2 separate regions of the Homo sapiens genome follow, and region 2 is linked to region 1. The links come from fine-mapping of genetic effects on gene expression. A gene starts in region 1. The other region holds a variant in brackets. All regions are shown on one strand. Distances are from middle to middle. Region 1 holds the start of BRCC3 (BRCA1/BRCA2-containing complex subunit 3). Region 2 has its middle 61 kb from the start of BRCC3.

What was found.
Region 2: its variant is fine-mapped to the expression of BRCC3 in blood mononuclear cells (TOPMed, PIP 0.96).

The regions. Positions count from the first base shown.
Region 1 is chrX:155,061,796-155,076,015 of GRCh38, forward strand. BRCC3 (BRCA1/BRCA2-containing complex subunit 3) reads left to right here and starts at 9,713. Exons shown (of 11, transcript NM_001018055.3): 1 at 9,713-9,855; 2 at 10,532-10,548; 3 at 11,582-11,636. The coding sequence starts at 9,733. It overlaps CMC4 (C-X9-C motif containing 4), which reads right to left and starts at 9,341. Exons shown (of 3, transcript NM_001018024.3): 1 at 8,899-9,341; 2 at 2,171-2,238; 3 at 1-196. The coding sequence starts at 2,228. The coding sequence ends at 48. MTCP1 (mature T cell proliferation 1) reads right to left here and starts at 9,341. Exons shown (of 5, transcript NM_001018025.4): 1 at 8,899-9,341; 2 at 4,111-4,262; 3 at 3,824-3,994; 4 at 3,691-3,742; 5 at 2,239-3,604. The coding sequence starts at 4,215. The coding sequence ends at 3,695. RefSeq lists enhancers at 8,969-9,268, 9,253-9,974, 9,739-9,958, 9,969-10,018, 9,975-10,696 and a silencer at 9,309-9,628.
Region 2 is chrX:155,123,309-155,140,891 of GRCh38, forward strand. No RefSeq gene overlaps it. Among named protein-coding and RNA genes, the nearest start is that of BRCC3, 61 kb to the left of the region's middle. The variant C/T (reference allele first, on the strand shown) is at 6,485.

The DNA.
Region 1 (14,220 bases):
AAAAAAATTCATTTGGTGGAAACATGGAGCAGCACTTCAGAAGAACTTTACTTTGATGCAGACTTCCGTGTTAGGTTTTCTTCCTCTTCTTTTTCAAATCCTGAACAGACGACAGATCTTCCCTTGGGATACTGAGCACAACACTTACGCAGTTCTTGGATGACAGCCTGACACTTTGATTCCATGTAGCTGTTGGCTGAAAAACATACAGGCAGACTCTAGTCATGATCTCATAGGACTAAGGTACAGGGAGGTTTAGATCAGTGCTTCCCACCCCTTTTCACTTTCAGTACCTATGGAACTGGAAGAAAGAAGATATACCAAAGTCCACTGAATTCTTTCTAATTTAGAGACCTGTCGACAGGTTCGTTAGGGAAAGTATGATTTACAAAGTGGTTGAAAGCTATTTTAATATATAATTTCCTTTAAGGTTAATAGCATGTATGCACCTTTTTCTAGGACATTGGTTTTTAACATCATTTTTATTACTGGTCACTAATTTGATGAATTAGGAAAATGCACATACACCACACATTATTTTGCATACAGTTTAAGCTGATTGTTGGACCTCCCCTACTAAGGCTGTGCATCAGGAATTGGCAAACTGCAGCCTTAGGGTCAAATTCAGCCGGTTTTTACAGCTGGGAGCTAAAAATGGATTTTAATTTTTAAAGGGTTGTAAACACACAACACATACACAATATATACAACAAAGGCCTTTGGCCTCCAAAGCCTAAAATATTACTTGTTTGGCCTTTTTCATAAAACATTTGCAGATCCCTACTATACATAAACACTAAGTTAAGGAGGACCTGACCTAAAGACTCTAGGTCAGCTGCAGTTAATGAGTCCCCCAGTACTAAAATGGAGTACATGGTAGTTAGCTCAGGATAGGAAAGACAATTCTGATTAGAAAGGCAGTATAGCAAGGTGGGTAACAGTCCAGATTTGGAGCTAGACCAAGGGCGGGGTTGGCGGGGGGTGTTCAAATTCCCACCATACCTCTTACTAGCTATGTGACCCTAGTCAAATTACATAACTTGTGTGTCTGTTTTCCCCTTTATGAAATGGGGGTCATAGTAGCATCTACCTCATGGATGAAAGGCTTAATACGTATAAAGTCCTTATAACGGTGCTTGTCATCTTTTAGTCTTTCCAGTTCTTAATCCTCCCACACTGCCAAGGGGGTGTCACCAGCTCTTTTTAACTTATTTTTTTCCCTTAGCTATGGGTTATTTCAAACAAGGTAAGGTTTTATTTGGGAGAAGGAATTAAATGCAAAAAACTTTTTCCTTTTCCTTAAAGTTGGAGGGAAGAAGTTTGACTAAAATGGCATTATTATACATCCAGATTTTAATCTAAAAGATTTTATAAAATATTGCTAACATCAAAAAATGAAAAGTCCAAGAATGAAAGCTAAAAGTCCAAGGAGATACACAAACAAAGGATTTCTTTGGTGGTGAATCTTTGGGGGAACTCTGAACATTTTTCCTTCATACCTTTCTATATTTTCATGACCTTCCATCTCCATCTATTACTTTACTAGTGAGGAAAACTTATTAAAATTTTTTCAAATTCAGATAGCCTTATAGCTTTTTCTATTTGCTCTTCTGGCAACAGTCATTCACTGATTAGAAAACTAAAATCCTCTAACATTTGGTCAAACTTAGCAGCTGGACAAATGGACAAATCACCTCAAATATGCTTTAGTCGAGATTCACTTCTGCCTTTAAGAGTTAGTTGATGACTTTGGCAGCCTGAATTCCAATTGTTATTTCAACCGCACCTCTTCCAGATTGCTTTTAAAAAGTGAATTGTCAGCTGCAGTGAAGTATAACCAACCAATTTAAAACTAGCCTTTTAGTAAAAACAAACAACAACAACAAAAAACCCTTTTTTTCCTAGCCCTAGCCCTAGGAAGTCTGAATTGTTCTAGGTAAGTGTTTAAAGATCTCCAGGTGATGCTAATCACCTGGAGTGAAAACCCCTAGCTTTGATCACATTACTTTTTATTTTCTGCATCTTTGATGATACAATGAAGAGAATCTTCAGGATAATTACATATACGTTACATTCTTAAAAAAGAGTTAATACAGATAAAAGAATAATTGGTCTCTTATAGTTAGTTCACAGTGGAAAAATATTTTTAAAGCATTTTACAATATACTACCTTGTAAACATTTCTGTATCTCACAGGCTTGCTTCTGGCACGGATCCTTCTGCGGCATATCCAGAAAACTAAAACAAGAAAAATGATTTTTATTTTTCTTTTTTCCATAAAGACTTTAAAGCCCCTCTACGTGGAATTTTCTTCTGAGACAAGCAGTATATGCCCTTACAATTGCTGGAAAATAATTACACTAAAAATACTCTTCCCAAACATAGGATGAATCAACTGTATTTTTATAATATCCATTTCATTAGGCTTGGAAGATATAAATAGCTTTACATGGAAAAAAAACCTTGAATTCAATCAACTCTTTTTGAATACTGTAAACCAACGTTAGGCTAGAGGAGCCGACGGCGCAGCCTGGCTCTATCATTCGCAGAAGAAACCCTTGATAAATGATTAAACTCCTTGAGCTTTTTTTATTACTCATATATAAAATGGGAATCATACCTACCTCAAAGCATTGACAGGAGGATTAAATGTGATAAAGTATATAAAGTACATACAATAGTGCCTGGAAAGGACTCCAATACATGGTAGCTATTATTCCCAAGACTTTTTTTTTTAAAGTAAAACCTTACTTTTAATGTATATAAACTGTTATAACTACTTTAACTCAGGAAATTCTTTACAAGTAGTAAATGTTTTCCTAGGAATCAGCAATATTTGGTGTTATTACTTCCTGAGAAAGGTGCCAGTTAAGCAGCTAAAATGGTTTTTCTTGAAGTTCTTATAGAAACCAGCTTATTTAAAATATCTGTAATCAGAGAATGAATTCAAGAGCCCACAATTTTGATCAGCAACTTCCAGTAATTTGAAGACACGATTTCAGATAGAAAAAAAGGCCCACAAGCCTTTGTAGCTAATTTCATCAATGCATATCTCTTTTCAGAGCCCTCTAAATACTCAGCAGATCCAAATTAGGTCAGTACTGGGATGGGAAACACTGGAGCAAAACCTAGGATATTTACAGGATGGGAGAAGGAAAGGCAGGTGAATTGCTGCAGGGCAAATAAGCGACAAATAGATGTTGATGCTGCTAGGAGCTGCTCTCTTCTCTCTAAATCAGTACCAAGTCCTTGGTGATCAGGGCATCTGTTCTGTAGAAGGTGCTGACTTTTGTGGGATTCATCAGATCCCAGGTCCAGCCGATGATGTCCATTAAGGGTTCTATGGCAATTTCCAAAGGAGTCAATTTCAAGTTACGGATCCTGACTAAGTGCTTTTGTTGACTTGCTTTCTGCCTACGTAACCTCTCTCTGCAGTTTCACTTGCAGTATTCTTCATGACCCTTGCTAAACTTCTGTTTCTTGAGCAGTTTTTCAACCCACTCCCTCCCCCCAGGCCCAAGGGTGGGTGCACTGCAGTAGTGGATGAAGTGATTGCCAAATACTGAACAGAACAAAGGAGCATATCTTCGTAGAATCCCAGCACCTGGAAAAAAAAATCATTAAAATCACCACAACTGAATAGAGCCAAAACAAAGAGGGGGAGGACAGAGGAGAAATAGAAATACATACCAGGTTAGTCATCAGGCAAAAGCTTAAGCAACAGCTCCTGTACTCCCCTGACCTGTCAGAAAAAGAAAAGTTTATGGAGTACTCTGTTACGAGAGTCCCAGTACAATGGAAAATAATTAAGCAACATGTGTACCATTAAATGATGCTGTATCTGCCACAAGCGAGAGTTGTTATCCATGTAGCGCTCCTCCGGGTAGAGTTGCCACATGAGAGGTAGCTGGGAGGTAAGAAGGTGACTTGGCCTAGCTGCGTCACCTAAGGGAACCTGAATTTGCTGGACTCGTGCCCTTAGGAAACTCGTCTCCTAATGGAAAGGAATGATCAAAAATAAAACCAAAGACTTCAGAATATTGAGACTGGAATAGAAACCAAGTTACTTGAAAGCAAAATCAAAGAAATAAGCAAAATGTAAACAGTTACCTCTTCCACGACGGCCACCCACGTGCGCTGGTATTCGTCGCGGTAGATACCCTCTTGGTGAACCCAGAGGTGATCGGGTGGAGCCCCCACATCCTCTCCTGCCATTCTGGGCTTTGGGTTCCAATTCTAGCCCTGCTTTTCTCCACCTAAGCCTGCAGCACCCGCGCACAGGACACAGGTGTGACTTTTTGGGTTTGAATGAACTCACCAGTAAGCAAGGTGATCTGGTACTAGCAACCACTAACCAGAACCAAACCTCATATGTCTATTTGCACAACCTAAATAGAACCAAGGACATCTGAAGCTTTCTGCAAGACAACTAAAGTGACACTCAGGCAGAGCCTCAGGTAGTGCTGCTGACTGCAAAGCGCTCAAGAATTTGGCTAGGTGAGGAGTTCTGTGGAAATGTAGGACTAGCACTACAGGAAGCTGGGCAGTGGTCTCACACATACTGCATTCACAAGCAGTGTCTGGCAAAATGTAGTTAGCAATAGAATATGCAAAGAGCGTGCCTAAAGACACACTTATTTTGGCAGGAAGGCAGTATAACAGACACATGCATGTCATATTCCCCAGGTAAAAGCCACTTCCAAGCAGTTTCCATTTTAAAAGGTAAGATTCTGAAGGACATATATGCATGTCTTTCAGAGTTGAAATTAAAAGTTTGTTTTAAGGGCAAATGATCTATTTATCAGTTTACTAAGAAAGTTTACAAATAGCGGATGGGCATTTCTAGAAGGGGATTTTCTTGTTAGGAAAAGTAAGCTAGCTTCATGGAATTTCTGAGCTGCAAGAGACTTTGGGGATCATGCTGATTTGGAGCTGAGTGAGTGCAAATGAAAGTTATCCATCTAGGTCCTTGTTTTATTTTAATAATTCTGCAGGATGTTACAGGAGCCCATTTTTCCATAGAGGACTAGGTTTAAATTTTGACTTCCTAAGCCAGAAGACCAGAAGCACATTTGAGAGGTGTAAAGGAAGCATACCTCCCAAAGCATTTGAGTGGTAGGGCAAACTCTATAACGATCCTCTGCCCAAGCCCCAGATATCATTTCAGGACCTCACAATAACTTGATGTGCATTTTGCATGAGTCAATCTTCTAGACCTTACTCAGAGCATTATAGCGCAGTTGTACTGTATTTCTACCTTTGGCCAGAGTATAGATACGGCACTGGGGAGCTGCCCCTCAAAACAAAGACCTGCTATTCTCATTAGGTGGGAAAAGAAATGCAGCGTGGGAGGGTGGTTGTTAGAGTCCTCAAAGTGAGACTGTCGAGAGCAACCAGATGCTTCACCCATTATACCCTGAGTGCATCTGACTCTGAGCCTGGTGTAAGCTCCTGTCTTAGTTTTCATACATATGTGCTCTCTCATTTCAAACTCGTCTAAACTTTCTCTTTAACCAAATCCTGATTTCTCTCAATGGCAACACCACCATTCCTGATCCTGCAGACTCAAAACTTATGAATTATCTTGGATTTCTTCCTCTTATTCAGTTGCTACATCCTATATGTCACCAATTCCAGCAGGCACTACAACTACCACTGCAGTTGAGACCAACTTTCCCCAAATACCAGGCTCATTTCTAGCTCCATACCCTTGCTCTTGTTTTCCACTTGCCTAAAATGCCTCCCTGGGCCTCTCTGCCTATCTTAGTGCTATTATAGCAGAGTCCAGGTGCCTGCCTCCTCTATGAAAACTTTAGAAAATTCTTGCCTCTTTTGACTACTGTAGCATTTATATTTAAACAAAGTCACCTTACACATTTGCTTTGCTTATTTCACAAGTCCTGTCTTCCCTAAAGCACAGTATTGTATTCTGCTCAATAGCAGGAATGATACAGTTCTGGGCACCCCAAGTCTCAGGTACTGGTCAAGCAATGTTTCAGTGAACAGGTGTATATGTATGGTGGGTAGGGAAGGGAAACAAAGGAACGCCACAGTGGTTGTCATGATTGGCTATGTATACGTGGGTAGAGATTGATTCTCTAGGCATAAGCCTCTGGCTATATATAATTTTTTTCCAAAGCCCCCCTTTTTTCCCATTTGCAGATACAGTTGTTTTGCCTCTCTTCCTTCCCAGAGCTTTGGAAAAGAGAAATACAAATAAAAACCTGGTAAATACTAATGTCAAAATAAAATATATTAAATTCGGATTTCAAGCACAGAAGACTTAAGTGTGGCCAATAACTGTTTTAAAAAAGTGGAAACCATGTGTTAAGGGTTTCAGGACCATCTCAATTTCATAGATAGGTCCTAGCAACAACCAACATGTTGACATTTAAATTTGTTTTGAATGGAAAACAAAATTGCATTGGTTATATTGACATTAAAAGGAAATAATGCCAGTGGAATAGAGGGCAAAGAGTTTGGAGATGATGGTCTGAGTTACTGAGTCACTACAAAGAGGCCTATGAGTCACTACAAAATATTCTCAGAAGAAAGGCAGTGTGATGTGCTGCTGTGACCCAAAGGTCAACATGCTGGGCATCAGCGGGATGAGCTTGGGAACCACCTCTCAGCACAGTATCCTGGAATTGTGTGTGCTAGCATTCAGAGGGCATGCAGGCCCAGAGAAAGACAACTGCAGTGATCAAGGGACAGAGAAGTCACCATATGAGCATGAACAAAGTCCTCAGCAGAGAAATGCAAAGGCTGAGGGAGAGGGATTCAGATCAAAGCCTATACAATCACAGGTTTTATGAGTGGAAAAATGTGATTCTTAGAAAACTTGCTCCCAACATTTTCCTTGGTCAAATAAGTTTGGGAATCTTGGAGAGTCATAAAGCACATTAGTGTAGTAACTGTTCTGGCAAGTTATGCAGTAAAGAAACTTTATGTTAACATTTCCCAAATTTATTTGACTAGAGAACATTTTATTTGCACATGATACTTGTTTACAAAATTCAGGACTTCTCGAACTAAGACGAATCTTTTAAAACCTCAACATAGACTTAGGTACAAGGTGCAATACAATACATGGAATATAAACTTGTGCAACTCAACTCAAGGAATACTGCCAGCTACAAATACAAATGAATTCCAAAAATGTTTAGATAACTGCATAACTTTATCATCCACTAGAAGAGATTGTCCCCATGAGGGTCACCTTGATTTCGGGGCCAGAGAGCACACTGGCCAAGACAGACAATTTCTTAGTAAGGCATTTTGTAAATTAGGTTTTAAATGGATGACATATAAGATAGAAGGGCTTCCTTAGGTAGTAATCTAAGTAAAACTATCATTTTTCCTTTACAGAATAAATTCTTTTGTGTCTTTTTTAAAAAAGTATAGTTTGCTTTAATTGCCAGGTTGATGAACAGTTTTTAAACATTGATCAGTTGAATACACTTATTTTATTAGAAGTCAATTAATAAACTCGTCCAATTACAATGAGTGAAATTACCAAGAACACAGGCCCAGGCCTGTGTATGAGTCCTGAGTCTGTCACTTACTAGCTTTGTGACCTTGGACAAGTTAACGTCTCTCCACCTCAGTTTCCTGAGGTGTAAAATGAGAATTAAAGAACATATTAATCATGATAGTCTTTATTTAGCATTTCCTATATGTTTACATATATTGACTCATTTAATTTTCACAATCTTCATAGGGCGCTATGAGGTGGGCAGAATTATTATCATCCCCACTTAAAGGTGAGGAAAAGAAAGGCACAGAGAAGTTAGGTAACTTGCTCAAGGTCACACAGTGGGGAAGTTGTTGAGCTTGACTCCAAATGGGGCAGTTTACATGTACCAGGCATATAAATGCTTAGTATCTAGCATATAATAAGCTTGCCATAAATGTTAATAATTTTGTTCTACTCCAGTTAAATGCCTGGAGCTGTAAAAGGCAGCCATGAGCATTAGAAAAGTTAGTGAACCTCATTCTGGAATATGAGATTGACTACCGCCGATAACAAACAAAAGGTATTTTTCTTCTTGAAAGTGCCTAAAGGCACTATATCCCATCACCAAATGTTAATGTCATAATAATAAGAACAGCCGTTCCTGCTCCATGAGGACGGGGCATACTAGCCACAAACAGTAACTGAAAATAACATATGATATAAAATTGAAACAAGAGAAAATTTAGACAGGTCCAATGTAACTGCACACGAAAATTTTCCAACCTTCATCATGATCAAATTAATTATAGAAAGATGTGCCATGTGATCCTTACAGATCGTTAGGTAAAAACGGAGGCTGCTGGCGTGCACATTACAGATCGTTGCACTGGATGGGGACCCTATGTGTGGGGAGACTTGGGTTGGAACTGACTTGGGAGAAAAGAGCAAAGCATCAACACTTCAAGTAGCACCTTGGGAATGTTCCCTTTCCAGTACTGCCATACCTGCCTGGCTTCAAAACTACACAAAGTAGAAAACCAAATCAAAGACACGAACACGGACGGGCTGTGGAGGCGGCACGGCATATATTGTGCTTTGATTTAGAATCGCTTTCAAAATCCACGTGTGATTCCTAGACTTGTGAGTTGGAAGATCTGTACTTTTATCCTTGGCACGTTTGACATACCTCGAAATAAAAATTACTTTTACATATATTTTTACTGTCTGATATCATCGAGACAAGGAGACCCGAGGAAACTTGCATTCTGGATACCTAATGTGATACATCCGAACTTGAATAAAAACTGAAGTTCTCCATTTCCCCTTCCCTGTATCCAACAAATAGCTACCTAAAAGCCTTTGTAGAAAGTAGCAGCAGCCAAGCTTAAGAGTGATACTTTTTCAGATACAGTATAACACTGTTTCTGCAAAAGGTTACTCACATGAATATAATGTTTCTTGGGCTAATTAATCCGCCTTGAGAACAGCTAGGCTAAAACTTCCAGGTCTCCCACCCTGGGCCACTCAAGCCAGGATCGCGACGTGAGCCCGGGGTGAGCCGAGGGGCATCCCGGGCCGAGGTCACTCGAACCGAAGTTATGAGGCGCGGGCCGGCAACCGGAAGTGGTCCAGGGAGAGTTGTACGAGATTCGGGGGCTGTGACTTGGAAATAAAACAAAATAAAATAAAACCTTAACTGTTTTGGGACTGACTTTCAAAAGAGCGTCCCCCTGGCTCAAGAGGCCGGCGTTCGCGGAGATGTCGTCTTAAAGGGCTGTCCCCCAAGCGTGTAGGCCGCGCACGGGTCTCCTTAGCGGGCGGGCAAAATGGGCGCCGGTACTCGGGAGGCGCCTGCCCAGGCGCCCGGGCGCCGCTCACAGAGTACGTCCGCCTGCGGCCCCAGAGCGCCGCCTCCCTGCCGCCCCCGCCGCCCGGCCTGACGCCCGGACCGCGGCCGGCCACCGCCCTCCGCCCCGACGGCCACGCCTGCCCCAAACCGCGCGGGCGTTTCCCAGGTGCTGCTGGGCGGGCCCCGCCCCCGTGCCCCAAGGCCCGCCCCCGCGCGCCAGCCGCGCGCCCGCTGCCCCCTCCTCGCCCCCACAGCCCCGCCCCCACAGCCCCGCCCGCTCCCTAAGCCCCGCCCCCTAGGAACCCGCGCGCCGAAGGCCAGGCCTGGGCGGAGCGCACAGCGCTGGGCGCTGGGGAGGCTGCGCCGCAGCACCCGGTTGGTCAGGACCAAGTGGGCCCGAGGCGGACGTGAGAAGGGTCGGGCCAAGATGGCGGTGCAGGTGGTGCAGGCGGTGCAGGCGGTTCATCTCGAGTCTGACGCTTTCCTCGTTTGTCTCAACCACGCTCTGAGCACAGAGAAGGAGGAAGTAATGGGGCTGTGCATAGGGGAGGTGAGTAGGTCTGTTAGCCTGGATGGAACCCTGCTGAGCAGTCCCAGTGTGTCCCCGGGGTGGGTGCCGGCAGCTCCCAGGGCTGCGGAGGCCACAGGCATCCTCGATTTAGGTCCTTGGACACCCTTTACATAGCTCTGTCGCGGGGAGCCCCGTTTCTTCTGGCCGCCTGACACTTGTTTAGTCTCCTGCGAGCCCCCGGCGGTCTGTACAGGCCCCGGGAGCCTTGCCCTTTCTCCTGTAGCCTGGGGCTTCTCTTTAGATCTGCGCTTTTCGCCCGGTTGACCAAAACTGCAAGGCAGGTCAGAAAGACACTGGAGTATAATGAGGATGTCCGGGTATTACGACGCAGCAGCTGACCACAGTTAGAGCCCCTTGCCTCGCCTCGAGTCTTCTGTCTAGGGAGCAGAGATATCAACCAAAGCATTTGAAGGGTATCGAAGAGCCTAACAGAAGGTGCGGGGCTTGAAGGAAGCAAAAGTTTCCGCTGCATTGTGTTGAGGAGGGGCCGAAGAGGATGAGGAAATACAGTTTAGCTGTTTACAGTCTAAAGTAATTCTCCAGTCTTTCATACCATGTGCGTGAACACATGACCTAATTGTCATATAATCTGCATCCATATATGTCAAACAAACGTAATGTGATCAATAATGTTTTTTGCTTTTTCCCACTCTAGTTGAACGATGATACAAGGTAAGACTGTATTTGTTTACTCATATCTTATAATCTCTAAGTCATTGTTAACCTAAAATTATGGCGACTTTGGCAGTATTGTGTCCGGATCGTGTCTTAAATTAATTACCATTATCACTCCGGGGCTCCCTTAATGATACAACCTTGAACTTTGGTTTCTGCCTTACCTCCTATTCAGTTGAGATATGGGATAAACATCTTAATAAGCATTATCATAATTGTTGCGTTTTAGGGGTGAGACAGAGCCTCACTCTGTCGCCCAGGCTGGAGTGCAGTGGCGCGATCTCTGCTCACTGCAACCTCCGCCTCCCAGGTTCAAGCGATTCTCATACTTCAGACTCCCGAATAGCTGAGATTACAGGTGCCCGCCACCACACCCGGCTGTCTTTTTTTTTTGTACAGACGGGGTTTCACCATGTTGGCCAGGCTGGTCTCGAACTCCTGGCTCAAGCAGTCTGCCCACCTCGACCTCCCCAAGTGCTGGAATTTCAGGCGTGAGCCACCACACCTGGCCTTGCTCAGTGTATTTCATGTTCTGTCTCCCCTTAAATGCCAGTGAGATATCAGTAATTTTCTTAGTGACAGAGAGCATATACGTTTAGAGGCATTTCCCCATTGATCCATTCCTTCACGTAAATTGACAGTGACATTGCCTTTCCTCCTGATGGACCTCAGTGATCTCAGAGATCCCCAGTAGCTTCAATACTTGACGTGGTGAAACCTTTCGGTAACATTTTAATTTAAACTTCAAATCATACCATAGTATACTTCTCAAGCCCACCTCCTTAGTTCCCAGGATTCCAGGAATTTAGCTTTGTCCATTATAACTTTATACACTCAGCCACTTGTGCATGTGTCCCAGATTGCTTCTAACAGATAGAGTGCAGCTCTAGCCTCAATTCAGTTTCCCTCCTCTTCTTTGGTCTCTGCTAAGATTTCATTGCAAAAACAGTTAATCCTGTTATTTTGCTTTAATTCCTTTTTATATTCCAAACCCCACTTCCTTTTTTTTTTTCTAATTTATTCCCAGTAGGAGTGACTCCAAATTTGCATATACTGGAACTGAAATGCGCACAGTTGCTGAAAAGGTATGTGTGCTAAAATTTTGCATGATGGAAACTTGCAGTTGGGGAAAGATTTCTGTAATCCAGTGATCTCAGCCAGAGTATGCGGTTTCTGGCTGGATGAGATATTCTTTCTAGTAAAATCAGATGAAGAATCTACTCACTAGGAATGGGACCTAATTTTCTGTTCTTTGTAGCAAATTGTCTCTACTTGATCAAGATTAATAATCACTGTCAGTACCACCCTCTTGCTGCTCTCCTTGCTGTCACTGCCTGTTTTCTGGCCCTTCTCCCACTTTCCTTGATACTTTGGCATCCTTGATACTTTCACATCACTATTACCTCTTTATCTCGAATTCCAACATCTACTCATGCAGCCCTCTCTTCTTAAACAGGCAAACTGACCATAGCATCATAGTTCTTAGTCTGCCTTGACTTTTTTCCTATCTGCACTCCTACACCATCTTTTGTGGCATGCTCTAGCCTTGATGGTCTAGTGTAATGCTTCTCACCTAATCGTGGTATCGGACCAGTTAACGTTTCCCCCAGTCTGTCACAGACCGATGCTTTTGTAAAATACAAAAAAAATGAATTACTTCCCCTCCTCCCACCAAGTTATCAGGCCACACCTTCATCTACTTATTACTACTAGTTACAAACTTCTCCACCTTAATCACTTTGCATCTCTTCCCATATCAAAGAAATAAGTCCTCTTCCTATCCAAAGCTGCAGCTTCTTCAGAGACCTTGTTTATCAAATGTTCTGTCTCTTTTCTGGGTCTTCTCCCTGTCACCTGGTTCTTTTAGGATAAACATATGCTTAAATTACTCTCATTTTCAGAAAGGAAAGCTACTTCTTAATCCCGTATCTTCCTGTAGTCAGTACTCTTATATCCTTCCTTTAATAGCCAGACTTCTTAAAAGAATGGGCTACAATTACTACTCCTTCACCTTCCCCAGTCAAACCCACTGAGGTCTGGTTTCTAATTCTACCTTCGGTGGATTATTTCCTGGTGCTTATCTTCATCTTTCTCCTTGAATCTCTAAACTCTCATGAGTTTTTGTTGGTTTTGTTGTATTGCCTTTATTCCTGTTTCCCCCTTCCCACAATCCTTTGTGGACTCCTCTTCCTCCTCTGTCTATGCATTAAATATTACTCATTCCTCTTAGGCACTGAAATCTCTGACTAAAGCAAGAAAGAGAGAAAGAAACAATTCACCCTGGGCATCAGTTACTAAGATACATTCCAATCTTAATAATGTAATTTTATTATTCAAGATTTCATGCCCTCGTCTTGAGTTTTATGTCAGTTTGTACTGTCTAAATTAGATATTAAACTTTATTAGTTAAGCTGCCTTTTTAGTGTTGCATAGTGTATTTTTTATCCTTTTATTTTTAGCCTTTCTGTATACTAATATTTAAAATGTGTCTCTTGTGTCTCTTATTAGTGGTAAATACTTTTTAAAAAATCCAGTGTGATAATCTTTTTAAGTGGAGTATTCAGTTGAAAAACAAAACAAAAATAAACCACAAAAAAAGAAATATCATGTGAGCCACGAATGTGATCCATATACATAATTTTAAATTTTTTAGTAATCACAGTAAAAAGGAATAAATGAAATTAATTTGAAGGGTGTATTTTAGTTAACCTAAGTATCTGAAGGATTATTATTTTAATATGTAGTGAATATTAAGAAATGTTGAGATATTTTACATTCCTTTTTTCTCTTTTGTGTTGTCTTTGAATTCCATGTGTATTTCATACTTGCTGCATATCTGAAATCAGACCTGTTGCACAGTGAAAATCTATAGCTTGTTTCAAAAGCCTTCTCTCAGATTTCACCCTTGTCCCTTCAACATCTGATAATGCTAAGCCCACTCTTTCCCCTGGCCCTTCTTGTTCTTCCCCACACTAAATGTGGCCACTCCCCTTGATTCAGGCCAAGACCTCTGCTCCCTTTCTCCACACCTTTTTTGTCCACTCATAAATGCTTTATTGATTCCTGCATTGATGCTGTTTGAGTCTAAGCTATAATCCCACTTGCCTGCTAAAAATTGCCATATTGTATATCTCTCATCCCAGATTATCTCATCTGAAAACAAGCTCATCTTCTTTCCTTCCTGACCCTTTCTAAACTTAGATCTGCCTCACACGTTCTACCTAGTTTCAACCTTGAAACTTTAGAGTCCTCTTTGACCGTTTCCTGTCCACCATCACCCATGGTCCATAAGCTACCAAATCTTGTAGATTCATTCTTTTTAATGGGTCTCAAATCTGTTTCTTCCATCTCTGCCATCTGCTTAGCCCAGTACTTCATTGTTACTTCATGTACAGTTTATCTGAAATAATTTTTTTTCCTTCGAGTTCATCCTGCAAATTATGGCTTGGCATTTGAGGTCTTGTACATTCTCACTCCAACTTTCTTAGCTTTGCCATCTGCCATTTCACCTCAAGCTCTGTATCTAAATCAGTTGGGTAAGTTGTCTCCCAGACACCTCATTCACACTTTACTACTTCCATTCGGCACCTGTAGAAAATCTGTTCCCCCCACTTCCCACAATAATCAAGGAATGGATACACTTGTCTGCCTTTTCTATGAAGATTTTTT
Region 2 (17,583 bases), 63 kb after region 1:
TTGGAATATTTTTACATGCCAACCTTTAGCACAAGTCCTTTTCCCTTTCTGGGTTTCATTTTCTTTAGGTATAGAATGAGATTAGAGTAGTTGACCACCAAGGTTTCTTTTAGCTCAGTGTCCAGTCTTTAAAAGTGTTGAGCATCACAAGAAACAGTGGTGTGAACAGGATGTATCATTATTTTCCCAGCTGCACCAATCTGGCTTACCTTTACACAACCCTGTATCCCCTTATGAACACTAGATTCTCTATTCTCAATCACATCCAAGACTCTCATGGTAACTGTATATACTTGTTCTCTCTGTTTTCTTATCTCCTATAATTTCAACTCATTGCCTTGTGACCTCTGTCCACAGCACTTCATTGAAACTACTCCTGCCAAAGTCACCAATGAGCTCCATACAGTGAAAGTCAATAGTTGCTTTTCCCATCCTTGATGAACCTCTCAGTATTGACACAGTTGGTCACTCCTCCTTGAAATCTACTTCCTTGGTTTCTCTTATTTTCTTCTCTGGCTATCCTTCCTGCTATCCTTTTCTTCTCTAGCTGTTCCTTCTCAAATTCATTCATAGACTTCTCTATCTTTGCATACCTATATGCAGTTGACACACAAATCTGTATCTGTCCACGCCTCTATCTGAACTCCAGACCTACATTTCCACCTCTCTACTGGACATTTTTTTTGAGACAGGGTCTCACTCTGTTGCCCAGGCTGGGGCGCAGTGGCATGATCATGGCTCACTGAAGCCTCGACCTCCTGACCTCAGCCTCCCAAGTAGCTGGGACTACAGGCACGCACCACCATGCCTGGCTCATTTTTTTGTATTTTTTTTGAAGAGGCAGGGTTCCACCATGTTGCCCAGGCTGGTGGCAAACTACTGGGCTCAAGCAATCCACCTGCCTCGGCCTCCCAAAGTGCTAGGATTACAGGCACGAGCCACCGTGCCTGGCCTCCACTTGGCTGTCTTAATGGCACATAAAAATTAATATATCTAAATCTGAAATCATGGTTTTCAATCTAAACTATATTCCCTTCCAACATTTCTTACCTCAGTGAATAGTGAATGTAACATCCATTTGCACAAACCAGAAACCAAATAGACATTCTTAACATCTCTCTCCATCACCTTCTAAACTATTTATATTGATAAAGTTACAGCGATTTGAAATTCTTTTTCTAGCCTAGTAATCTGAGTAATTTGTAGGATAAACATGTTGGGGGAGGGGCAGGTACATGGAGGTGTCAAAGTGCCTGATGGCTGAGGAAGCAGGCTGGGATTACTGCATGGAGGTGTCAGAGTTTCCAGCTTTGTGGCTCCATGGTTGGGTGGAGGGGCAGGGGGAGAGATCCAGTGGAAGCCATGTTGTGCCAGTGCCCTCAGGGCGAGGAGGCAGCCAGCAGTGTGCTACATTAAGCAAATAACTAAGTTGATTGAGTGAAGAAGTAAATCTGTTGAGGAAAATGGGAGCTAGGTTTCTCAATGTCAGAGAAATTATTTGAAAACATGGAAAGGCCAGGCGCAGTGGCTCACGCCTGTAATCCCAGCACTTTGGGAGGCCGAGACGGGTCAGGAGATTGAGACCATCCTGGCTAACACGCTGAAACCCCATCTCTACTAAAAATACAAAAAAAAAAAAAAAGGTTAGCTGGGCATGGTGGCAGGCGCCTGTAGTCCCAGCTACTCGGGAGGCTGACGCAGGAGAATGGTGTGAACCCGGGAGGCAGAGCTTGCAGTGAGCGAAGATTGCGCCACTGCACTCCAGCCTGGACGGCAGAGCAAGACTCTGTCTCAAAAAAAAAAACAAAACAAAATCATGGAAAGGAGGAAGGGTAAAATGAATCTCATGGTATTGGATTAAAATTGGAAAAGAGTTCATTAATATGAACTCTTGTTCAAAGGAAATATATATATATATATATATACACACACACACACACACACACACATATATACACACACACACACATACACACACATATATACACACACACACACATATATACACACACACACAGAAACCCTATATATATATATCTCAGAGCTGAGAAAGGTATGTGTATATGTACATATCTGTCTCAGCTCCGTCCACCAAGAGGGACTAGAAGTGACACCCAGTGGTTATGAGCACAGCTAGCACCAAGATGCTGATTTCCAAACCCTCCACTAAAAATGGAATTGAATTGACAGTCCAGAAATAAGCCCACACATCTACAGTCAACTGATTTTCAACAAGGGTGCCAAGACTATGGGAGAGAATAGTCTTCAACAACTGGCGAATGGACAAGTGGATATCCACGTGCAAAATAATGAAGTTGGACTGAGATCCCACACGATAAATGAATATTAACTCCAAACGTATTGAAGACTTAAATTCAAGAGCTTAAACAATAAAAACTTTATAAGAAAACAGTAGTAAATCTTTACGATCTTGGTTTTTACAATGGATTCTTAGATATGACACCAAAGTACAAGCAACAAATAAAAAATAGATAAATTGGAATTTATGGAAGTTAGAAAATTTTGTGCATCCAAAGACATGATCAAAAAGTGAAAACTCAGGACAATGGCAGAAAATATTTGCAAATCCTATGTATAAGAGTCTAGTATGCAAAATATATAAAGAACACTGAAAACAACAAAAACCAAACAGCACAATTCAAAAATGGGCAAAGGACCTAAATAGAAATTTTCCAAAGAAGACCTACAAATTGCGAAGAAGCACATGAAAAGATGCTTGACGTTACTAGTCACCAGAGAAATAAAAATCATGAGATATGACTTTATACTAACCAGAATAAAAATGTAAGAGAATAACAAGTGTTGGTGAGGCTGTGGAGAAATTGGAACTCTTGTACACTACAGGTAGGAATATAAAATGGTGTAGACAATTTGGAAAACTGGCTGATGGCTCCTCCAAAACTTAAACACAGAATTACCATAAGACCTAGCAAGGGCATTTCTAGGTGTATATCCCACAGAACTGAAGACAGAAATTTAAACAAAAACTAGACAACCCAAATGTCTATCAACCAATGAATGGGTAAACAAAATGCAGTCTGTTCTTCAATGGAATATTATTTGGCCATAAAAAGGAATGAGGGGTAGGAGGGAGCAGGGATAGAGGGTTGATGGCTAAGAGGGATGAGGTTTCTTTTTGAGGTGATGAAAATATTCTAAGTTGACTGCAGTGATGGTTGTACAGCTCTATGACTATACTAAAAGTCATTAAATTGTTCACTTTAAATGGGTGAATTGTGTATAAATTATGTCTCCATAAAGCTGTTTATTTTTTTAAAAGACACACAAAAGAAGAAACTTTCCTGCAGCTCCAGCTGACCTTGCAGGCTGGCCTCTTCCGCTCTGACCTGTGCTCCCTAAGCTCCCTGCGAAGGAGATAAAATGAGCTCCTGGTCTGCAACAGCTATTGGTTATTGTAATGTCTGCTTTTGTTTAAAAAGAAAAAAAGACCCAACTCCTTATACAGTTTGAATTGTATATATTTGGGGATCTCTGAGTTTCCTGTATCTGGATGTCTAAATCTCTTACTAGACTTAGGAAGTTTTCAGCAAGATGACTGGATGATCATGTTTCAGCCTCTGTGAGACAAACATTACAGCAGCAGATGGCACAAGACCCAGGAGCCTGAGGATGAACATCACTGGAATCCACACACTCATCAGATCTGTGCTTCCCAGGCAGCAGGCACCAGTTCCCCCTTTGCCTTCCACCATGATTGTAAGCCTCCTGAGGCCTTCATCAGATGCAGATGCTGATGCCATGTTTTCTGTACAGCCTGCAGAACTGTGAGCCATTTAAACCTCTTTATAAATTACCCACCCTCAGGTATTCCTTTATAGCAATGCAAAAATGGACTAATACACAATTTAGGAGCAAGGTGTAGGTAAGACAAGGAAAGGACTGGAAAAGGGTGAAGTGACTGCTGTAAGGACTGGTAACATCAATCACATGGCTGTGAAAGGAGGGCAACAGTCCTGACTGGTGGAGAGAGCACACTTTAAACTCTGTGAAGGCAGAGGAGGGGCCGCTAACATCTCAGCTACTTGTCTGCAGAGCCTCTGGACAATTTAGCCCAGACTGCCACCACCACTTTCAACTCAATGGCTGGCCAACAAATCTTAATCTAAGGACTCTCAGAAACTTCCCAGGAACTGCTGACTCAAGTAGTTAACAGCCTCCATTCAGAACGATAGAATGAGATTAACTTTCTGGAAACTAACAAAACTCTTTTGTACAAGAGCTTAATAGAATTGGACCCTGATCCCAACTCAACACAATGGCACTGCTGAGGTCACTACAACTTCTTACATGAAAAGAAGCTACCTATACTAGCTTGCCACACACAAAGTGGTCTATTGTCTCTAATGTACATGGTAATGGGACAATAACACATTACCCAGGACTTCCTGCTGGTCAGTCAAGGCAGGATATGTGCAACTGTCAGCATCCCTTACTGCACCTGGGTTAATGAAATATTTAACTGGCTTGGCTCCAGTTGGGGAGCCTAGCTGCAGTGTGTATCCTCCAAGTGGGCCTAATTAGAGACTCATTCTTGTATATGTTGCCCAAAACAATCAGAATGTATTTGGTTAAGGCCCCTATAAGCACAGTTAATTAGAGTAATTTGATGGGGTGGCCTATGCTCCTGAGAATTCTTAGCTAGCTATTTGAAAAGTGAGGGATGGAGCTGTAGAGAGTGGATCTGCCATGGTGCCCTTGTGACCTGGCATGCATATATCTATGCAAGCTAGGCTTGAATTGCAACTTATCTGAGTCTTGGCAGGATGTATCATGATCCTCCCAGAACACAAGAGGATGGGAGGGTGGTGAGGTGCTGTTTCAAGGCTATCTCTAACCTCCTAATCTCTCCTGGGAGGCTGCCACTGAGACAGACAGTTTCTCATCTGAGTACTATTGAGGTCTGAGGCTATCTGCTCTGCCCCACTCAGGGTATAGCTACAGAATATAAAACTGCTAGCTGCAGTCTAAAAGGGGCTCCTCAGCAAGGGAGTGTCCCATAACTGGTGCAGCAAACATGCAGGCCTTGTTTCAGAAGTCCTGTTTGGTGCAGGGAACAAGGACATGGGGAGCTGGCACCTTTGGCCCATCTTCCTCTTGCTGTCTATGTAGGTAATAAACTGAATCTTAAAAGGACATGTCATTACTTTAGAAGCCAAATCAATCACTCTTGGGCTTGGCCTTTTTTTGACAATGTGGTAGTTATGTACAAGAGTGTCTTTGTTTTTGAGAATTGTACACTGGAGTGTTTAGGACTGATGGAACATGTCTGCAACTTGGTCTCAAATGGTTAAGAAAAAGCCATATGATAATGGTGGTACACACATGCACGCATGCATGCTGCAGAAATGTGAAGTGTTACCAATTGAACAATCTGGATGAAGTGAACATGGGAGTTCTTTGTACTATTCCTCCAACTTTTTGGTAAGTTTATAACAAGTTACTTTTTAAAATCTACTGAGCTTAAGGCCAGGGGGAAGTCTTATTTTTCACTTTGAACTCTTCTGTAAATTGTGTTTTGAATTTCTACAATGAGTATGTATTACTTTCTTAATACAAAATTAAAGTGTCCGATTTTTAAAATCACAAAAGTAATATAATAAAGGAAACTTGAAAAATGTGAAGAGAAACCTATAATTTCCTCAAAATAACTCATTTTTGGTAGTCCTTTTGGTCTTCTCTTTCTTATTTCTGTTATTCATTTCTAGTATTAATGCATCTTATAGTTTTGCATGTGGATTTCTTCATTTAACATAATTCTAAAACTTTAATATGTTGTATAGGTTTTATAATTTTAGTGCCTGTAGTCCCAGCTACATGATTCACTAAACAACAACAGCAAACCCTGGGGAGAGGGACATCTGATTTCCAGAGCCACCACATTATAACATCAAAATGTCCAGTTTTAAACAAAAAAGTATGAGGCATGCAAGGAAACAAAGTACGGCCCACTGACAGGAAAAAAAAGTTTATAAAAACTGTCCCAGACAAAGCCCAGGTCTTGGACTTACTAGACAATTTAAATCAACAGTTGTAAATATGCTCAAAGAACAAAAGGAAACCATGAATAAACAATTAAATCAGGAAAATGATATCTCGCCAAATAGAGATAACAAAGATAAAATTTTTAAAAGGAACAAAATAGAAATTCAGGAGCTAAAAACTATAATAACTGAAATGAATAATTCATGAGAGAGACTTAACAGCAGATTTGAGCAGGCAGAAGAAAGAATCAGTAAACTTGAAGATAGGTCAATTATCAGAGACCCAAGTATCAAAAAGAAAAAAGAATGAAGAAAAACAAACAGATCCTCAGAGACCTGTGGGACACCATCAAGCTTAACAATGCACCCACAATGGGAGTTCTAGCTAAAGAAAGAAGGGGCATAAAGAAGTAATGGCCAAAAACTCCCCAGATTTGATGAAATCTATGAATCTACATATT[C/T]AAGAAACTCTAAGTATTTTGAGAGGGATAAACCCACACCTAGACACTTCATAGTCAAAATGTCTAAAGCCAATGACAGAATCTTGGAAGCAGCAAGAGAAATGACTTATCACATACAACTGAACGTCAATAATATTGACAGCCAAATTGTTGTCAGAAATCATAGAGGCCAGAAGGCAGTGGGATGACATATTCAAAGTGCTGAAAGAAAAAGTGTCAGTGAAGAATTATATGTCCAGCAAAATTATCCTACAAAAATGAAGTAAAATAATGACATCCCCTTACCAGTGGATCTGTTGGATTGAATTAAAAAAAAGAAAAAATAATGACATTCCCAGAAAGAAAAACAAGAGACTGCCATTGCAGACCTATCTTAGAAGAAATACTAGAGAGAGTTATTCAGGCTGAAATGAAAGGACAGTAGACTGTAACTCAGATTCACATAAAGAAATAAATATCATTGGTAAAGGTAACTACATAGATAAATATAAGACATGGTATGTTGTATTTTTGTGACGCTTTTTTCTTCTACTTAATTTAGAAGACAGCTGCATAAAGCAATAATTCTAGGATGTGTTGATCGGCATATAATGTAAAAAATATATAATATGTATGACAATAATAGCCCAAAAGAGAGGAGAATAGAGCCATGTTGGAGCAAATTTTTTTAATATGGTTGAAATTAAATTGGTATTTATTAAAACCAGATGATTTTAAGTTAAGATGTTAATTGTAATCACCAGGGCAACCACTAAGGAAATAATTTAAAAATATAGTAAAGAAACAAGAATTAAGATGGCATACTAGAAAATATGTAACACAAAAGAAGGCAGTAATGGAGAAATAGAAGATCAAAAGACACAGGTATATAGAAAACAAAGAGCAAAATGACAGGCATAAATCATCGCTTATCAGTAATTAGATATAAATGAATGAGTGAGATTATTAGAATACACACAAAAAAATCCTATTATATGCTGTTCACAGGATACAGACTTTAAATTCAAAGATACAAATAAAGTTAAGATGATGGGAAAAGATATATCATGCAAACAGCAACCATAACAGCTGGAACAGCTAAACTAATATCAGACAAAATAGATTTTTTAAAATGTTAGAGACAAATAGGGGCATTTTATAAAGTTACAATGGTCAATCCACCAGGAAGATGATATAAGCATATAGGCACATAACAACAGAGCCTAAGATACATGAAGCAAAACCTGACAGCATCAAAGCAGAAATAGAAAATTCAACAATGACTGTTGGAGACTTCAATACACCACTTTCAATAGTGGATAGAACAACTAGGTAGATGATAAACAAGGAAATAGAAGAACTGAATAACATTATCAACCAAGAAGACCTAACAGACAACTTACTTATAAGACACTTAATCCAACAATAGCAGCAGAATATACATACTCCTCAACTAAACATGAAGAATTATCTAAGTTAGATCATATGTTAGGCCACAAAACGAGTTTCAATAAATTTAAAGGACTGAAATTATACAATGTATGTTCTCTCTCCACAATGGAATAAAATTAGAAATCAATAACAGAAGAAAATTTGGGAAATTCACCAAGTTATGGAAATTAAACAATAAATTCCTAAATACCCATTGGGTCAAAGAAGAAATCATAAGGGAAAATAGAAAATACTTTGAGATAAATGAAAAAAAAAAACCAAAACTTATGCAATGAAAGCAGCGCTTGGGGGAAATTTATATCTATAAATGCCTACAGTAAAAAAGAGAAAGGATTTCAAATTAATAACCCAACTTCTCAGCTTAAGGAACTGAAAAAAAGCAAATTAATTCCAAAGCTAGCAGAGGGAAGGATATAATAAAGGTTAGGGTGGTAACAAATGACAGGGAACAGGAAAACAATAGAGAAAAATCAATAAAACCAAAAGTTGGTTTGCTGAAAAGATCAACAAAACTGACAATCCTATAGCTAGACTGACTATGAATAAAAGATTCAAATTTCTAAAATTGGGAATGAAATAGGAGACAATACTACAAACCTTACAAAAAGAAAACGGGAATTATATCCAAAGGGGCAAAGCAAGATGGTAGAATAGAAGCCTATGCCATTCATCCTCCCTCCCCACACAGAAACACGAAATTTTAACAATTATCTGCACACACAAAAGCATCGTCACAAGAACCAAAAATCAGGTAAGCAATCACAGTACCTGGTTTTAACTTAATATTTCTGAGAGTCATTGAAGAGGATAGGAGAGACAGTCTTGACTCACAGACAGCACCCCTCCTCCATCTCCTGGTAGCGACCATGCATTTGCAGGTAGGGAGCATATGGACCAGACCTAACCAGAGGGGAATTGCCCTTCCCAGTGGTCAGACCTTAAGTTTTTGCAGGCCTCGCCACCATGGGCCAAAGTGCTCTGGGGTTCTAGGTAAATTTGGAAGGCAGTCTAGGACACAAGGACTGCAATTCCCAGGTGAGTCCTAGTGCTGAGCTGTGGACTAGGGTGGCACATGACCTAGTGAGACACATACCTAATGGAGTGCTTGCAGTACCCCTCCCTCAACACCAAGCAGTGCAGCTAGCATCAAGGAAATGTTTAAGGAGAGAAGAGTAAAGAGGACTTTGTCTTGCATCTTGGATACCAGCTCAGCCACAGTAGGATAGAGCACTGGGCAGTCATGAGGCCCCCATTCCAGGCCCTAGCTCATGGACAACATTTCTAGACACACCCTGGGCTAAGAAGGAACCCACTGTCTTGAAGGGAAGAATCCAGTTTTGGCAGGATTCGTCACCTGCTGACTAAAGAGCCCTTGAGCTTTGAATAACCAGCAGCAATACCTAGGGAATATACTGTGGGCCTTGGGCTCTGAGATGTGCTGTCTTCAAGTAAGACTCAGCACATTCCCAGCTGTGGTGGCTACAATGAGAGGCTCCTGTTTGAGAAAAGCAGAGGAAAAAGTAAAGGGAACTTTGTCTTGCTCCTTAGGTACCAGCTCAGCTACAATGTGGTAGAACAATGAGGAGGCTCTTGGACAGCATTTCTGGACCTGCTCTGGGCCAGAGGGGAGCCCCCTGCCCTGAAGGGTGAGTCCCAGACCTGGCAGCATTCACCACAAGCTGAATGAAGAGCCCTGGAGCTTTAAGTGAATGTTGGAAATGGCCTGGAAGAGCCCCCCAAGGGACAGGGTTGGTCGTGGCCACAGGGAGAGGCACCTCTGCCTGTGGAAGGGGGAGGGAAGAGTGGGAAGTACTTCGTCTTGTGGTTTAAGTGCCAGCTAAACCACAGTAGAACAGAGCATCAGGTAAATTTCTAAGATTTTTTTATTCTAATCCCTGGGTTATTACCCTGATACCAAAACCAGACAAAGATACATTAAGAAAACTATAGGCCAGTATCTCTGATGAATATTGATGCAAAAATCCTCAATAAAATACTAACAAACTGAATTCAACAATTCAGTTTATATTACAATAAATTAGATAACATAGATGAAGTAGACAAATTTTTAGAAAAACAAAAACCACCAAAGCTGACCTACCAATAAACAAAAAATCTGAATAAACTTATGAGAAGTAAAGAGATTGAATTACTGGTTTTAAAACTTTCCACCAGTAAAAGCCCAGGACCAGATGGCTTCACTGGTGAATTCTGCCAAACATTTGAATTCATATACCAGTTCAGAATTAACAGCAGTTCTTTACAAGCTCTTCAAAAACAGAAGAGGAAATACTTCTCAACTCATTCTATGAGAACAATACTACCCTGATACCAAAACCAGACAAAGACATCATATGGAAAGAAAACTAGACACCAATAATTCTTTATGAATATAGATGTAAAATTCCTCAACAAAATCCTAGGAAACCTAATCCAGCAACATATAAAAAGAATGAGGCCCCATTACCATGTGACAATTTTCCTAAGAGTGCATGGACAGTTCAACATACAAGAATCAATCGATATAATACACCAGATTAAATGAGTAAAGGACTAAAACTGCATGATCATCTCAACAGGTGCAGGATAAGCATTTGACATAAGCCAACACGTTTTCATGAGAAAAAGACTCAACAAACTACAAAGAGGAAGGAACTTCCCCAACCTGATAAAGGCCATATATGAATAACCCACAGCTAATATCATACTTAATGGTGAAAGACTGAATTATTTCTGCATAAGATCAGAATCAAGACAAGGATGCTGTTTCCTGCCACTTTAATATTGTACTAGAGATTCTAGCCAGGGCAGTTGAGGGCAGGGGAAGACACCCAAATTGGAAAGGAGATGTAAAACTGTATCTATTTGCAAATGGCTTGATATTATATAGGGAGAACCCTAAAGAATGCATGCACACACACACACAAAACCTATTAGAGCTAATAAATGAGCTCTTCAAAGCTGCAGAGTTTGGGCAGGGTTGCTAGCTGCTCTGGTACTGGAAACCCAATTTAGCTGGGGGTTGTCAAAACAAATGGGTACGGGGTTTCTTTTGCAAGTGGTGGAAAGGCTGTAGATTGATCTTGGTGATAGTTGCACAACTCTATGAATATACTAAAAACTACTGAATTTTACACGAAATGAGGGAAAAGTTGTAGTGTGGTGGGCCCCCCACCATGTTACTTAAGAGTGTATGTCCACGGCTTGAAACTTCAAGGCTTGGCGGTGAGCCAAGGCCATGGTGCCCAGCCTAGGAGCAGGTGTCCTTGAGAACCCAAACATCCTGGAATGGATCTGGGAACCCACTACAGCAAACAGTCTCATTGCACACAGTAGGCAAAGAGCCAGGAAATTAGCTTAAAAGCAGCTTAGAGATGGGAGGCAGGGCAGATCTCTGGAGTTGTCCTGCTGCTGCCCAGGAGTGCCCTGTATGTAAGTCCTAATAAACTCCTAAGATGGACTTCTTTGGTACCTTGGCTCCTTCCCAGTTTGGGGGGCCCAGTTTGAGGGAATGTTACAGTGCCAGGCTTTTCTCATAACGAAGATATATGTGAATTAAATATCAATAAAGCCATTTAAGAAAATATGCCTTAGAAAGATGTGATTTAAAAGTAATGTGTGTGCATGTCTAAACAAACTTCAACATTCCTTAAAGGAATACATGAACATACAACACTCAACAAAGCAAAATGAACAGTATCTGGCATCCAATCAGCAATTACTAGGTATAGGAAGAAGCAGAAAAATGTGACCCATACACGAGACAAAAATAAGTCAATAGGAACAGGCCAAGAAATGCCCAAGATGATGGAATTAGCAAATATTTAAAAATAACCATTATAACTATTATAATATCCACAAGGGTTTAAAGGAGAATGTTCATTCTTTTAAAATCTTTCATTACTCTCATTATGTTGAATAATATAAAAAGAACCAAATGGAACTTCTAGAGATGAAACATGCAATATTAGAAACGCAACATGTTCTAGATGGGATTAACAGCAAATCAGACTCTGCAGAAGAAAAGATCCGTGAATTTGAAGGCATAACAAAAGAAAATCTCCAAACTGAAGCATAGGGTAGGAGGAAGGCTCTTAAAAAATGGAAATGAACAGAGCTTTGGTGAACTGTGATACGATCATCAAGAAGTGGCCAGACGTGGTGGCTCACGCCTGTAATGCCAGCACTTTGGGAGGCCCAGGCGGGCAGATCACTTGAGCTTAGGAGTTTGAGACTAGCCTGGACAACATGGCAAAACCCCCCATCTCTACAAAACATACAAAAATTAGCTGGGTGTGGTGGCACATGGCTGTAGTCCCAGCTACTCAGGAGGCTGAGGTGGGAGGATGGCTTGAGCCCAGGAGGCAGAGGTTGCAGTGAACCGAGATTGCACCATTGCACTCCAGCCTGGCTGGGCGACAGAGCAGAACCCTCTCTCACTAACAAAACAACAACAACAAAATCACTGAGTGTAATACACATTTAATTGGAACACTCCACTCAATAATAGAAGAATATACATCTTTTCAAGTTTACAAAGAACATTTATGGCTGGGCGCGGTGGCTCACGTCTGTAATGCCAGCACTTTGGGAGGCCGAGGCGGGCGGATCACGAGGTCAGGAGATCGAGACCATCCTGGCTAACACAGTGTAACCCTATCTCTAATAAAGATACAGAAAATTAGTGAGGCATGGTGGCGGGCACCTGTAGTCCCAGCTACTGGGGAGGCTGAGGCAGGAGAATGGCGTGAACCCGGGAGGCGGAGCTTGCAGTGAGCGGAGATCCCGCCACTGCACTCCAGCCAGGGCGACAAAGCGAGACTCCGTCTCAAAAAACAAAAAAAGAACATTTACCTTGATAGACCATATTCTGTGCCATAAAATAAATCTCAAATTTTAAAAGACCAAAGTCAGAAAAAGGTGTTTAGACAACAAAAGCAGTATTTAGCAGTAAATGTCTATATTATAAAAGAAGCAATACATCAAGTCGGAAACCTAGCCTTCTACCTTAAGAAACCAGAAAATAAAGAGCAAAATAAACCCAAAGCAAGTAGAAGAAAGGAAATAATAAAAAGCATAAGTTCATGAAATAGAAACAGAAAATAGAGAAATCCCATGGAACCAAAAGTTGGTTCTTTGAGATCAACACAATTAACTCTTTAGGCAGACCAATCAAGAGAAAAAAAGAACATACATTACCAATATGAAGAGTGAGAGAAGTAACATCGGTAAAGAGTCTACAGATATTAGAAGGATAATAAAGAAATACTATGAACAACTCTATGGACTTGTGAATCTGGTGCTGCCTGAAGAGTAGGAAGACATGACCTCAAGCAGGCTGCAGCCCTGATAATGTGTGACTGAAGCTTCCCTAACAATGCCATATCAAGAATTTCCAAGGTACTGTCATAGGATCACCTAACTTCCCAAGACCTGAAGATCTCGAGAGCTTTCATATGGAGTCCCCAACATGTCCCCGTTCCTCATAATATTCGTTAATGGTTGTTGTTTATTTTGTTACTGTGGCATGTACTATGCAAAGCGCCCTAGCTCCTCCAGAGATGCCCTGCCCCAAACCTGGACTTGCCCTCAGAAACCAAGCAAGTGCGTGGTACCTGCCTTCTTGGGCCGGGCAGCCATCTTTCCCAGCATTCTTGCAGAGCCCGAGCTCCTCGCAAGTTCAAATCCCACCTCATAATGCTGGATGTCTGCGTCAGGCTGCATGAAGTAAGGTCGCCCGCTGAGGGCTCCCTGCAGGGTCAGGCATTTCTTCCGTCACCTGGGGCTCCTTGTCCAAAACCAGGGGTGCCGGTACCCTGCTCAGGGTCTGGAAGAGGTGGGGCTGGACTCTGTCGCCATCACCCTCGACTCGCACATGGGGTTATCTGCGTCCAAGGCTGCCCTCGGGGCGACCACCGATGAGCCCATGGAGCCTGAGCCGAAACTGGCTGGTGAGTAGGAGGCCGGGTATGGGCAGCCCACGCAGCTAGTGCAGTCTGAGTGGGGAAGAACCTCCTAATGGCTGCACCTTTTCTCCTTCCGCTCCCCCCTCCCCCTCCCCCTCCCCCTCCCCCTCCCCTCAGTGCCCTCCCCTTTTCCACGTCCCTGCAGGAGGGGGAGTTTGAGCTGTCATTTCTAGTAATCTTTGAGCAGAGAGGGGAACCTCTGGTGGGTTGTTTGTTTGTTTGTTTTTTGTTTTTTGAGACAGAGTCTCGCTGTGTTGCAGGCTGGAGTGCAGTGGTGCGATCTCAGCTCACTGCAACCTCTGCCTCCCTGGTTCAAGCGATTCTCCTGCCTCAGCCTCCTGACTAGCTGGCACTACAGCAGCCCGCCACCACGCTCAACTAATTTGGTATTTTTAGTAGAGACGGGGTTTCTCCATGTTGGTCAGGCTGCTCTCGGAACTCCTGACCTCAGGTGATCCGCCTGCCTCAGCCTCCCACAGCGACCTCTGGTGTTTTTAACTACAAATTCCAAAATATTTAGAAATTATTCAACTAAGATAGGAGACAAAGAGGGTGGAATAATAACCCAGGCTTCTTAGAAAGGTCTCATTTCCCAAGTTCACCCCAGTGCCCTTATAAATTGTAACATTCAGCGAGTCTTCTGAAGGAAAGTCTATTGAATAGATTCTCCCTTAGGTATTCCTAACCTAACGTCCATGAATAGGCTTTAGAGTGTCCATGGCACAATTTTTGTGCCCTGTGTATGTTTCTAGGAGGAAGATTTTTGATTCCTAGAGTGACCCGTTGCTCAAAGGATAGACTCCCAGTCTACCCAGTCTAGCCCCATTCCCTGTTGTTTGAGCTTGTAGTGAGCAGTGACTTGATAAACAATGTGTGCTATTGGCAGAGTATACTTAAATTTTACAGCTATTGAAAGCTTCACAGCTAGCTCACTGTTTTGATCACCCCTTTATGTTGGTATTTTGCTTAAACTATTCATTGACTTAATCTGTATTTGCCTTCTGAAGTTTTATCTTCTTATCATCGTGCTAATGTGCATGTGTTACAGCAAGTTACTAAGTTAAATAGAGATTAATTTCATATATATATATATATATATATATATATATATATATATATGTTTGCAAAGCATCATTCTCAGCAGGCCACATACTAGATTCTCTGTATATATTATACAGTCCTGGATACTTATGTAATATATGCCAGAATTGGCTTCTGAAGACCTAAAGAAATGCTCATTAATGAATAAGTGCCATGGATGAAGTTGTGCCATAATCATAGTTTGTAGACAGTTTTGAAAGCAAAGAGGATTTTGAACTGGTAAAAAGTAGGGAATCATTGCCATGTTCTTGAATGTGAAAATCAAATTATGAAACTTAACTTTTGAGGGGCTGTATGAAATGAATTCATGAATGGTTATAGGCATGAGGCCAGAAATTTAAAAGCTGTCACAATAAACTAGGTACAAAGTTATGAGGTAGTGGACTCAAGAAAAAGAAGCAATAAATAAAAGGATACGGGATGCAGATAAAAGGATCAGAGATGGAGTGACAGTACAAAGAAAGTTCCTAACTGAACCTTCATGGAATGACAGTTTTCTTGAGAGAAGTAGTGACAGTGGTTAATAGCTTGGTCTCTAGGGTCAAACAAATCTAGTTTCAAATCCCAGCCCTGCCATTTAACTACCTGTATGATCTTGGGTATGTTACCTTCTTCAGTACTGTTCATTCATTTAATAAGTATTGACCAAAACCTGTTATGTGCCATCTGCTTTGCTGGGCCTTGAGGACCAAAATGGATTCATTCCCTCCCCTCATCAAGTATGCAAGATAACTAAAGGCATTAAATATCATGTAACATATAACAGTGCAAATTGTAATACATGTAATGAAGAAAATGTTTTTGAGGATTCCCTATGTCATTTCTCCAACATTTGATTGCATCTGTACTTAAGTTAAAATTACCAATTTTGGTTTTGAAAATTATTTCTCAGTCTGTATTCTAATGCTTGTCATTGTCTCTAATTTAGATCTAATACAGTACATCAGTGAAACTAACATAAGCGTTGAACATCTGGCTAATGTTCTTTCTGAAAAAACTAGGAGCAGTAGCTGGGTGGTGGTGTTCAAAGCCCTGGTTACTGTACATCACCTCATGGTGCACGGAAATGAGGTGAGCGTAAGCATGCAATTGCAAAATGTTCTTGGTTTGTCAAGGGCTTACTACCTTTTACTTTAATTAGTGGCAAGTGAGAGAAGTGAATAGCAGTATGTATTTAAAATATTTTTATCTGTTTTTATTAATGAATATATCTTTGTGATCAGTATTCTTTGAGGTGTATCATTTTAGTCACTGATGAAATAGCCACTGGATAACAATGTCCATAATAGAGTGGATATTTCTGTCAATTCTTTAGAGGATTTAGACCCCAAAAAGCCCCTTAGAAATGTGTTACCTCATACTTGCTTTACTTTGACAGGAGAGACTACACCTAAGCATATTACCTCATCACCTACCCATCTCTCTATATTTTACAGAACAACTGGAATGCTCCATAACATTAAATTACTTATTATTTTCTACTTTAAATTCACAGGCATTTTCCCTCAGTAAGTTTTGTATTAAAAAATCAGGGTTTAGAAATTGACTGGATTTTGAAACTCATTATAAAGCAACAGTAATTACACAGCAGAGTACTGGTAAAAAATAGAACATATATATAAATGGAACACAATAGAGAGCTTGGTTATAGAACTACACTTATATGGGAACTTGGTGGCACTAAAAAATGTGGGGAAAAGCATGGGGGAAGGAATTTAAAATAAAGCCTATTGGCACAAGCAGCATCCCTATGGAAAAAATGAGAATGAGATGCTTATGTTACCCCATATACAAAAATAAATTCCACATGGATGAAATATCTAAATTCAAAAAATAGATAAAATTGAAGAAAATGTAGGAGAATATGCTTATGACATTTGGGTAGGGAAGGCGCCATAGTTAAAAGAAGATATTTGCAACATATATACTATAGACTAAAGGTTAATATTCAGAATACATAATTAGTAAGAAAAAGGCACTACAATAGACTAATGAGCAAAAGAAATGAACAGAGGGTTTATAGAAAAGGAAAACAGAATGTCTAATAATCATCTGAGAACATGCTCATATTAGCAAAAATTAAAATTTCTGACAGTATGAATAGTTGGGAGGACATTGAGGTAATGGGAATTCACATACTCTGTGGATACATGTAGCTGCTGCAGTTTATCACTGTGGAGCGGAGAACATTGAGACACATTTAGAAAGTTGAAAATGCCCATCCCAGTGACTCAGCAAATCCACTTCTCACATCATGTTTATAATAATGAAAAACTAGAAATCACCTAAATTTCCATCACTAGAGAACAGATAAAATTTAGTGTAGTTATACAATAAAATGCTGTATTACATTAAATGAGATTGTATACCAGTAAGGCTAGACCTCAAAAACAATGCTAATAGAAGAAGCAAATTGTAGAATGACACTTAGAGTGCAAAACTACTTACGTAAAAAATTTAAAATACACACAGTACTTGTCCATGGAACAAATACATGTGAAACTATGAGGAAAATAGATTATAAAGATAATGCATTAAAATTATGATACCAGTTACTTCTAGGTAGAAGCAGGAAATGGATCTCAGGGATGGGGCTTTATC